2 linked regions of the Homo sapiens genome follow. The protein of the gene in region 1 purifies or fractionates together with the protein of each later gene. This does not show direct contact. Each region holds a gene or a part of one and is shown on either strand. Other genes may lie near its edges.

Region 1 (5,700 bases):
AAGTGAATAGTAAGGAGTGAGAGAAGAGTGGTTATAACTGACCATGGAGTTTGAACTAGGTAAAGAGAACATGAAGGGAGTGAGGGGCAGTGAAAGGGTGGTAGGATGAATATGGTGGAGGTCCAGAGGGGTTGGAATATGGCATCCAGGGTGGATAAATGACAGCAACAGAGAAGAATAGCAAGGCGGTAGTCTCAAGACATAAGATTCTAAACTGATGGGTTTTAGACAGGAAAGGAGAATGGAGGCAAAAAGGAGGAACTAGCCCCACTTCCAATCCCTCTGGTACTAGGACTCTGAGAACACAGAGCCTCCACTAGATGGGCTTGTAGGGGAAACTGTCCTTAAGAATATGACTTCATCTCAACCTCAGCCCTGTTGACATTTTAGGCCTGATAATTCTTTGTTGTTCAGAGATACCCCGTGCATTATAGGATGTCTAGCAGGATCCCTGGCCTCTACCTACTAGATGCCAATAGCAATCCTCAGTTGTTTCAATTCAAACTGTTTCCAGATATTACCAGTGCTCTTGGGGATAAAAGGACATTTTGAGAAAGAGGTTGAGAATATGAAGCATTGTGCTAACAATGGACCATGAATTCCAAAGGGCACAGTGAAAGGGTTCCACATATTGGGCAACAGAGTAGCAGGGACAGAGTAGGGGCTGATCCTTCGGGAATCAGATTGCTGGAGGTGAGGGATAACCTTGGAAGCAGAGATTTTTGGTGGTAGCTGACATAAGCCAGGATAAAAGACCAGAGATTGAACTTCATTTACAAAGTAGCTAACATAGCAGATTATCCATGTTGGGAACCACATAAAGACCTGTCCCTTTTAGTTAGAAGAAGTAATTACTTTGAAGAGGACTGGTATTTGAATGACCAAATATTAAAGTGGAGAAGTTTTAGTGTAAGTAGTAATTAATACAGAAATTTAAAATATGTGGCATGTCTTTATGTGATTTCTGAGAAGTGGTTGCTCTGAACTGAAGATAGGGATGTTTGTTTATAAGGTGCTTTGTATTAAATAATGAATTCAGATCAAAAAACTGATACATGTTTAAGATTCTACTTCTGGTGCTGTCATTGGCTCTTTGAACAAGGATGAAATGATAATAGCAAATGAAAAACAATTAACAGCGCTGGATTGATGCTGTAACAAAATGAAGGTTTAATATTAATGTATTTGTGACCGGAAATTCATTGGTTAATGTCATTTCTCACTCTGTCTTAGGATCAGTTTGTGTGTGGAGAAACAGTCCCAGCCCCTTCAGCCAACAAAGAATTAGTTAAATGCTGAAGAAGCCTTCAGGAATCCAAATCCTGAACATTTGGAATGAGCCCAGATAGAAATATCGAATGCAAAGCTACTGGCTTCACAGAGACAACCATTTATGATTTGCTGTTCTGTAAGAGTGTGGATTCTTTCTATCAACTGCTGATATCATCTTCAGGAAGCAAGTCCATAACATGACATATCTGGATTTTGTGCTTAGAACCTTAAATTGGAAGCATTCTTAATTATGCATCTAAATTTAAAAGAAGATAATTTCAAAACAGTGCTTTCTTTCCCTTGGTTTCATCATTTTCATATCTTAAACCAAATTACTTCGGTATCTGACAACAGCATCATCTACCTCAGTCATTAGGATTTCTTAATAAAAAAGAGATTGTATTTTTGACTTGGTTATTAAGATTATTAAAATTAGCCCTTCCTTTGAAATATGACATCAGCTTTGCTGTTCTAAATTTAAAATTAGTTGCTTCATCAGTACCACACTTCCAGTTTCTATACCAAGCCAGTCTCCTCAGTTTTCCCATTAGAATGGACATGTTCTGTTCAGCGTGTCATTTCTGTAATGCTTCATGCAGAGAGTTTGGTCATAGTATTAAAGAGAAAATACAGTGAGGTCACAATGTCTCCAGAGCTAAAAGTTAGTGAACAAGAAAGAAAGTCCAAAATGAAGTGATGAAAGAATGAGGACTTTTCTTATATTCTGCATATTCCTTGGAAGTCAGGACAAGATGAAAAGAAAAACATCCAAAAGAAGTGAAATTGGTGACAGAATGAGAGGAGCAAAGCATACCAGTGTAGTAAGTGGAATGTTTGAATGACTTTGCCAGGTCAGAGCAAGTAATATTTCTGTATCTGAGTTTTTGTTTGTGTTTTGATAAGGCTAATGAAATTGCATTCCAGGTAGGGGTTAACGTCAAATTTCCATGGCTGGTAGCTGTGCTTTTGGCATATCACAGTGTTGTGTCACTACTACAAGGTAAAGCATCTACAGCGGAGAATGAGCTTGAAAATGAGAGACCTATTGTGAATAAATATGCCCATGAGAGCATATTTAATAAGCCTCTATAACATGCAGCCAAACCAGACATTCACTCCTGCAGAGAAATGTTGCCCTGGAGAAAAAGAAATATATAAAGATAGGCTATCACCCTTCTTTTGCTGCAGTACTAAGCATAGCAAGAAATTAGAATCATTTACATTGGAAATTTGAAAATTCCCTTTATATACACAACTTTACTGTGTATAAATAAAAAATATTTATTAATGCAGTGATGTCCGTCAGGTTGTTTTAGGAATGGCTTCTGCAATTAGAAAAATAGCTTGCTAGAATGTAAATGTTCTGTTACTGGTAAATGTACTGCACACATTCATTGGACGTTAAAACAAGTGAGTAGCCTTTTTTACCTGCCAGCAGCATGGCTGTGTGCAGCCACTAGGCTGAGACAATAAATTACCAAAAATTATAATGTACCGAGCTGAAAATGCTCAGTACATTATGTGGCATATTCTGGATGTGATGAGAAATCTCATTGCCATTTGGGACACTGACATCCCAGAAGTAATCCACAACTGCTTTGCAAAAGCAAAGTGACTGCTCAGATGAACAGAGCAGAGTACTCACTCACTATGGTGGCATCAGCTGCAAAGCAAAATGAACTGTCCCATGATCATGTTGATGGTTTTCTAGATACTGCCAACATGTTAGCTCTTTCTGATGCTGATGAGTTTCAAACACGAACAGACACCCTTGATGTGGGTTTGCTAAGAACATAGAAGAACAGGAAGAAAAGTTGCCAGGTTCACACATCCCAGGAAAAAAGAAGCATAAAAAGCATTAGCAGTCAGTGACTGATGATAATGCTGCAATAATGGGAATGGTTTTGTTTCTAAACCAAATTATTTCTAAATCAAATCATTTATTGCTTTGTTTCTAAAGCAATTGAGTCACTAAGTTTGTGAACTGTAGGAGAACACATCAAGATTGAATCCTGTGTTAAGCAGAAGGTAAAACCAGAGCCAGGCGCAGTGGCTCGTGCCTGTAATCCCAGCTACTCAGGAAGCTAAGGCAGGAGGATCATGTGAGGCCAGGAGTTCAAGACTAGCCTGGGCAACATAGAAAGACCCTGTCTCTAAAAAATCTTCTTTTAATTAGCAAGGTGTGGGGCCTTGAGCAAATTGCTTGGGCCCAGGAGTTTGAGGCTGTGGTGAGCTGTGATCACACCACTGCGTTCCAGCCTGTGTGACAGGGCAAGACCTCATGCCTAAAAAATAAAGAGAAAGCAGAGTAAAACTGGACTCTGAGATACGACTAAAGTTCTGTGTGATACGTGTGCCTTATTTAGCTCAAGACATTCCTGGAGCACCTATAAAAACTGACTTGTAATCCAGGCTATGTCTCTTTTTAGCTTCGTAATCTTTGGCAAGGCCATTGGATTCTTCAGCTGTACAATTAGGAGACTCGATCAGGTGATTGCCTTTCTCAGCTGTCAGTTCTCTAATTTCAGGCTTGGTAGCTTGTAGGAACTGAAATTGCAATTAAAACCTTTATAAACTCAAACTAAATCATGAATTACAGAAAAAGTCCATTCTTCCAAAACTTGATGTTACCACACTTACAAGTTTAAAATATGAAGTCGACTGTTTAAAGGATTCTGCATATATTCTAGTGTGCACATTCAGAAACATTTTTCTTGGAAAAAGTACCCAACATTTTTTATAACTGCACATATTAATTTATTGCCAGAATAAATTGCATTGCATGCTAAATAAAGTCAGATAATTCAAATCCATTTGCTTTTATGTAGTTTTTCTTCTAAATGTCAACATTTTGAATTAAAATGTTTATGATTTTATATGAGGTAGAAATCTTAACTGCTTTGGGGTATTGTTAATAGACTTTTTGTTATGGACAGTAGTTTTTAAATAAGGAAATTGCCAATTTCTACAGTTTGGGCTCTGGATTTCTATTGTTTGGGAAAAAAATAACTGAGTCAAGTGGTAGTAAGACAAAGTTGACATTCTTAGATGAGTAACTCAGTTTATTACAAGGAAAGAAAACTGATTGTTTAAGGCTGATGATCAATTCTTGGAGTGGTTTCAGAGCCCAGCTCTGGTCAGAAGACAATTTGAATCTTAGTTCCTCCACTGTGATCTCCGAGAAGTTACTTAATAATTATATTCTGGTTTGTGAAATCTGGATCATAGTACCTCTTTGACAGGGTTGCTGTGTGAACCCATTCATTCTGCAATTAGAAAAATAGCTGTCATGTGCTATGCACTAGGCAAAGAAGTACCTGTCACATGCTAGGCACTAGGGGAAGAAGATTCGGTTTCTACATTTGGAAACTTAGTGGAACTAGAAGAGACAGAAGCAAGATTACAGATGAGTTAGAGCCCCCAAGGAAACAAACCAGGTGATGTGGGAGAGAGTAACTGGGTCAGGTGACTTTTTAAGGGAGTCTGAGCTCTGGCACTTTTTCTAAGACCTGAAGGATGAGAAGGAAACAGCCTTGTGAAAATGATTAAATGAGCTAGTATCTATAAAACATGACAGCTAATGCCTGTCATGTGCAAAAAATGGTTAACTATTCTAACTCCGAAAGGAATTAAACATTGTTTTGCGCTTTCTCCTAGTCCATGTTCTGCTGCTGTAACAATACCTGAGACTGGATAATTTATCAAGAATAAAGGTTAATTTGGCTCATGAGTCTGGCGCCTGGGGAGTTCATGTTATGACCATGGTGAGGGTCTCGTGCTGTGTCCTAACATGATGGAGAAGCAGAACGGGAAGCGGGCATGTGCAAAGATACCATACTGGAGAGTCAGCCTTATTTTATAGCAACCGCCTCTCTTGGTAACTAATCCAGTCTTGGGAGAGGGAACACTCACTCCCACCAGATGTCATTAATTTCTTCAAGGGCAGATCCCTTGTTATCCAAATACCTCTTAAAAGTCTCACCATCTTTCAACACCATTACGTTGGGGACCAAGCCTCAATATGAGTTTGGTGTGGACAAACCATATCCAAGCCACAGCAAACATTGACAGTATTCTTGGCATAAATATGAGAAGTGCAAAGTTTTGGACACCCTTGCCTCCCTCTTATTGAATCTAGGGGTAGGGCCCAGCAACCTGTGTTTTAACAAGCCTGCTTGCTGATTCGCATGCAGTTAAAAGTTTGGGAACCACTGGTTTTCAAACTTGACAGCACATTTGTAATCGCTTCGGGCGCTTTAAAAATTTGATGCCCCAGTGAGTCTGACTTAATTGATTTGGGTGCAACTTGGGCATCAGGATTTTTTAAAAAGTCTCCCTAGCGATTCTAACATGTAGCCAAGGCCTAGAACCACTGGGCTAGAAAAGCAGAAAGTTCATAATCACTAAGTTAAAAGGAACCATTTTTTT
Region 2 (3,425 bases), on another chromosome or scaffold:
ATTTTAAACTGAACTTATGCTAGGAAACCTTAAGTATGGGGAAGGTAGAAAGTTCATTTCATCACTTAGAAAATATGTCTTCTCAAGAACAAAACTGTGCTGTTACAACTCAGTGTTCAATGTGAAATTGCTGCCAAATGTTATGTAGTTTAATAGAGAACTTGAAAAAATAAAACATTAAAATGGAGCTTGTGTTAGCATCAGGTATCCATTTGTTCAGGACAGTCCTGTTCATGTCTGTTGTCTTGGCATAGTTTTTTCCCCTAGAATATAGTACTCCCTTTTACTCTAAAAAATATCCCAGTTTGGACAATAAAATACATAATTACTCTAGTTATATTATTTGCTTTACTTCTAAAAATGTAAGAAATTGAATTTTTTTAAAGAAAAATGTTGGTTCCTGCCTTGATCTAAGTCTCATCCAAAGGAAATAAATAGTCACTAGTTTTTTATCTTACAACTCAGGACATTTGTCTTTGGTTATTAATGGAAATTAGTATGTGATTACTTTCATAGTTATGCCACAAATCACATTGAAGAAGGAATCATTCCGACCTCTGTTCCAGGACAAGAGCTAGAACAATCCATTTCTTGTCCTTTGATTTGAGAGTCACAGTCAGGGTGGCTTCTGCCACCCTTAGTAACTCAGAGCAGAGGCCAGCCCCCTCCTTCCCTCACTTTCTTTTGCTGAGTCCTTTGCCCACCTGTCAAGGTGGCAGGCACTGTGCTGGGTACAGGAGGACAGTCAGACATGTCCCTTCTTAGCTATAGTCGAGCTGTCTGGGAAACAGGATGAAAAACAGGAGGGTTATTTTCTTGTGCCCTCTTTGTCAGCTGATCCCCTCTTCTGCTACCAGCTATTTGGCCAGCAAGCCGTTTTTAGTCCCCACTTTGCCCATTTTTCTGTTTTGGTTCATCGTTTCTTAAAAGCCATGTTATAAAACATGGTAGTTTGAATCCTGTTGCTAATTTTAAACTTTCCTCTAAAATGTACTGAATTTTGACAAAAATTTGAAAATATCCTCAGCTAACTAGAATAAAAAGGATCATAAAACAATGATTTTAAAACTGAAATCTCTAGAAACTCAACATCCAAGTCAGCCGCATTTCTTCATTCAGAGTGTGTGTGTCACACCTGCCAAGGTGCTGCGTACTCTGCTAACCGAGCTAGAGTAGTGAGCAAAGCCATTTTCTCTGATCACAAGATTTTACATTTTTCTGGGATTTTGACCTGCAAAGTAGTCTCGTAAGAGCATTTGAGAGACTTACTTGGAACTGCCTTCAGAATCTATAGAGCCTTTTTTCTCTTTTTCCTCTAAAATGAAAAGAGCTTCATTTTATGATTATAACAAAAGTGACACTGTAAGCAGTTAGAACATTAAGAAGTATAAATAAAAAGTAAAAATCATCTACAACCCTACCATACTCAGAAGGAGAAAAGAACTGTCATGTATGTATACACACATACCTATGTAATTTTAATATAAATAGAATTATGTTCTACATGCTGTTTTATTTCCTCAACAGTAAATTATGGACATGTCTGAAATGTGAAATAAATTTCAAAATAAGGCTTCAGAAAGTGTAGTAAGTAATCTCTGCATTATTAAAAATAAGCAGGGTAGGGCTGGTACTTGGCTCGCTTAGCATTTGAATGTCCAACTTGGTGTTATCACTGTATCTTCCCTCCATTTGTCTTTGTGATTAGCATGTAAAATGGTATTCATAAAGATCACAACCCTTGAATATCAGATGAAGAGAAAACTTGACTCCAACATCTTACCACAACTCTGGTTTCTTCCTGCAGAATTCATTTTCAGAGGAAAATGATGAATCATCCCTGTCTGTGAACCACTGTGCTTTCCTTGAGGGTGGCATTGTAGGTTGACACCAGCAAAGACTCAGAGTGACTTGAGCATTGGAGATCCTTCTACTTGGCTGCTGTATTCATGCATTATGTTGGTTTGAGAATAGCTAGTGTATTGATCCAAGTAGTCAAAGTGTCTTAAAAGGACACCTATTTGTCCTTTTGAGCCCCAGCTGAGTGAATACTGATAGTGGACTAGAAAAGCATAGTCAAGAAAAGTGACCCACCTTGTTACTTGACCAGCAGTCTAGCTGAGAGATCTGATTTTATGTTCGTAACTTTCTGTAAAGAAAGACACAAGGACTTTTCAAAGACAGTTTATATCTTTCCAAGGCAGGAAGCTTTGCATTTGCAATCTTAGTGTTGTGTCCCTTTCTGATTTTCAAATACATCACACCTGCCTTCCTGTTTTGGGAGCAAAGATGTAATTTCAATTCCCCTTGCTACCGTCCTTATTTAAATTATTTCCATTCTAAGAGATTTTTGTTATTTTTTTAAATGTAATCTGAGCACTTTTTTGTATTCTAAAAGATAGATGATATCAGATAAATATGTTGTACATTTGATTAAAATTATTTAGATAAATATTACTATGTTGACTTTTAAATAGCTTTATCCTATTTTTCATTCATTTTGCAAATATTTGTTGTGTGTAGTTTCTTAACGTGTCAGAATCTATTATGTAAAAGAACCTTTCCAGATTTCTGAACAGTATATGCTTTGATTTTATAGGCTTTATATTATTTCAGTATGAATAAAGATAAGGAATATGAAACAGTTAACTAAAATGTATCTGTCGTTGCTAACTTGAAAAATGAAGTAGAAACAGTTGGAAAATGTTTGAATTAGAAGTTATTCAAGTGCACACTCTTTTCTAAAAGAAAGCCAATGACTATAAGGCAAAAGAAGTTTGACTGCATGTGGTATTTTTTGCTCTTGTATATGCTTTTTGAACAAGCTATTTGATAAAGCCTGAATGGAAAAAATAAAGCTGTTTCTATCTGCAGTGGCTCTTGGTGGTCATTACTTAAAAGACATATGTTTTCATCTTTAAATTCCTGAACACATTTCACCTGCTGTGAATATGTAGAAAACAGAGGTAAAACATTGGCTATATGAGTCATAAAATTTAATTTTCACTAAATGGAGTTCCAGACCATGTGGTTATCTAAATCAAAGTACGGTGGATTCCTTTCTCAGAGAGTAAAGTAAATCCCATTTTAAGCCAGAAGTCTGGATTTTCACAAGATAAATTAGGGAATAGACTTTTATAACCCAAAGGGATTCAAAATAGGACTTTATCAAATTCAAATATAATTTATCTTAGAACGTTTACAGAGAAATTTTAAAAAATATAAAGTGTGCTTTAATTGTTCATAATAGTCTGTGGTATATTTATGCAATACATTTACTAGTGTTTTATCTCTTTACAGTAAAGAGGGTCCTGGTAGGTTGGTGATAAAATGAATCCTATTTCCAAGTGATTTAAATATTAGTTACAATTCCCACTGTCATTTTTTTCCTCCAGAATGGACTTAGCCTTTTCTTAGTTGAAATG

The links.
Region 2: the proteins of DPH3 (region 1) and ATE1 purify together in Homo sapiens (affinity purification with mass spectrometry; 2 studies listed by BioGRID and IntAct, with this or other methods). This does not show direct contact.

The regions. Positions count from the first base shown.
Region 1 is NC_000003.12:16,256,363-16,262,062, reverse strand, and holds the end of DPH3 (diphthamide biosynthesis protein 3), read left to right. Parts: intron 1-1,233; coding exon 1,234-1,299; 3' UTR 1,300-5,002; downstream 5,003-5,700.
Region 2 is NC_000010.11:121,739,872-121,743,296, reverse strand, and holds the end of ATE1 (arginyl-tRNA--protein transferase 1), read left to right. Parts: 3' UTR 1-2,873; downstream 2,874-3,425. UniProt on the Homo sapiens protein: Involved in the post-translational conjugation of arginine to the N-terminal aspartate or glutamate of a protein. This arginylation is required for degradation of the protein via the ubiquitin pathway. Does not arginylate cysteine residues.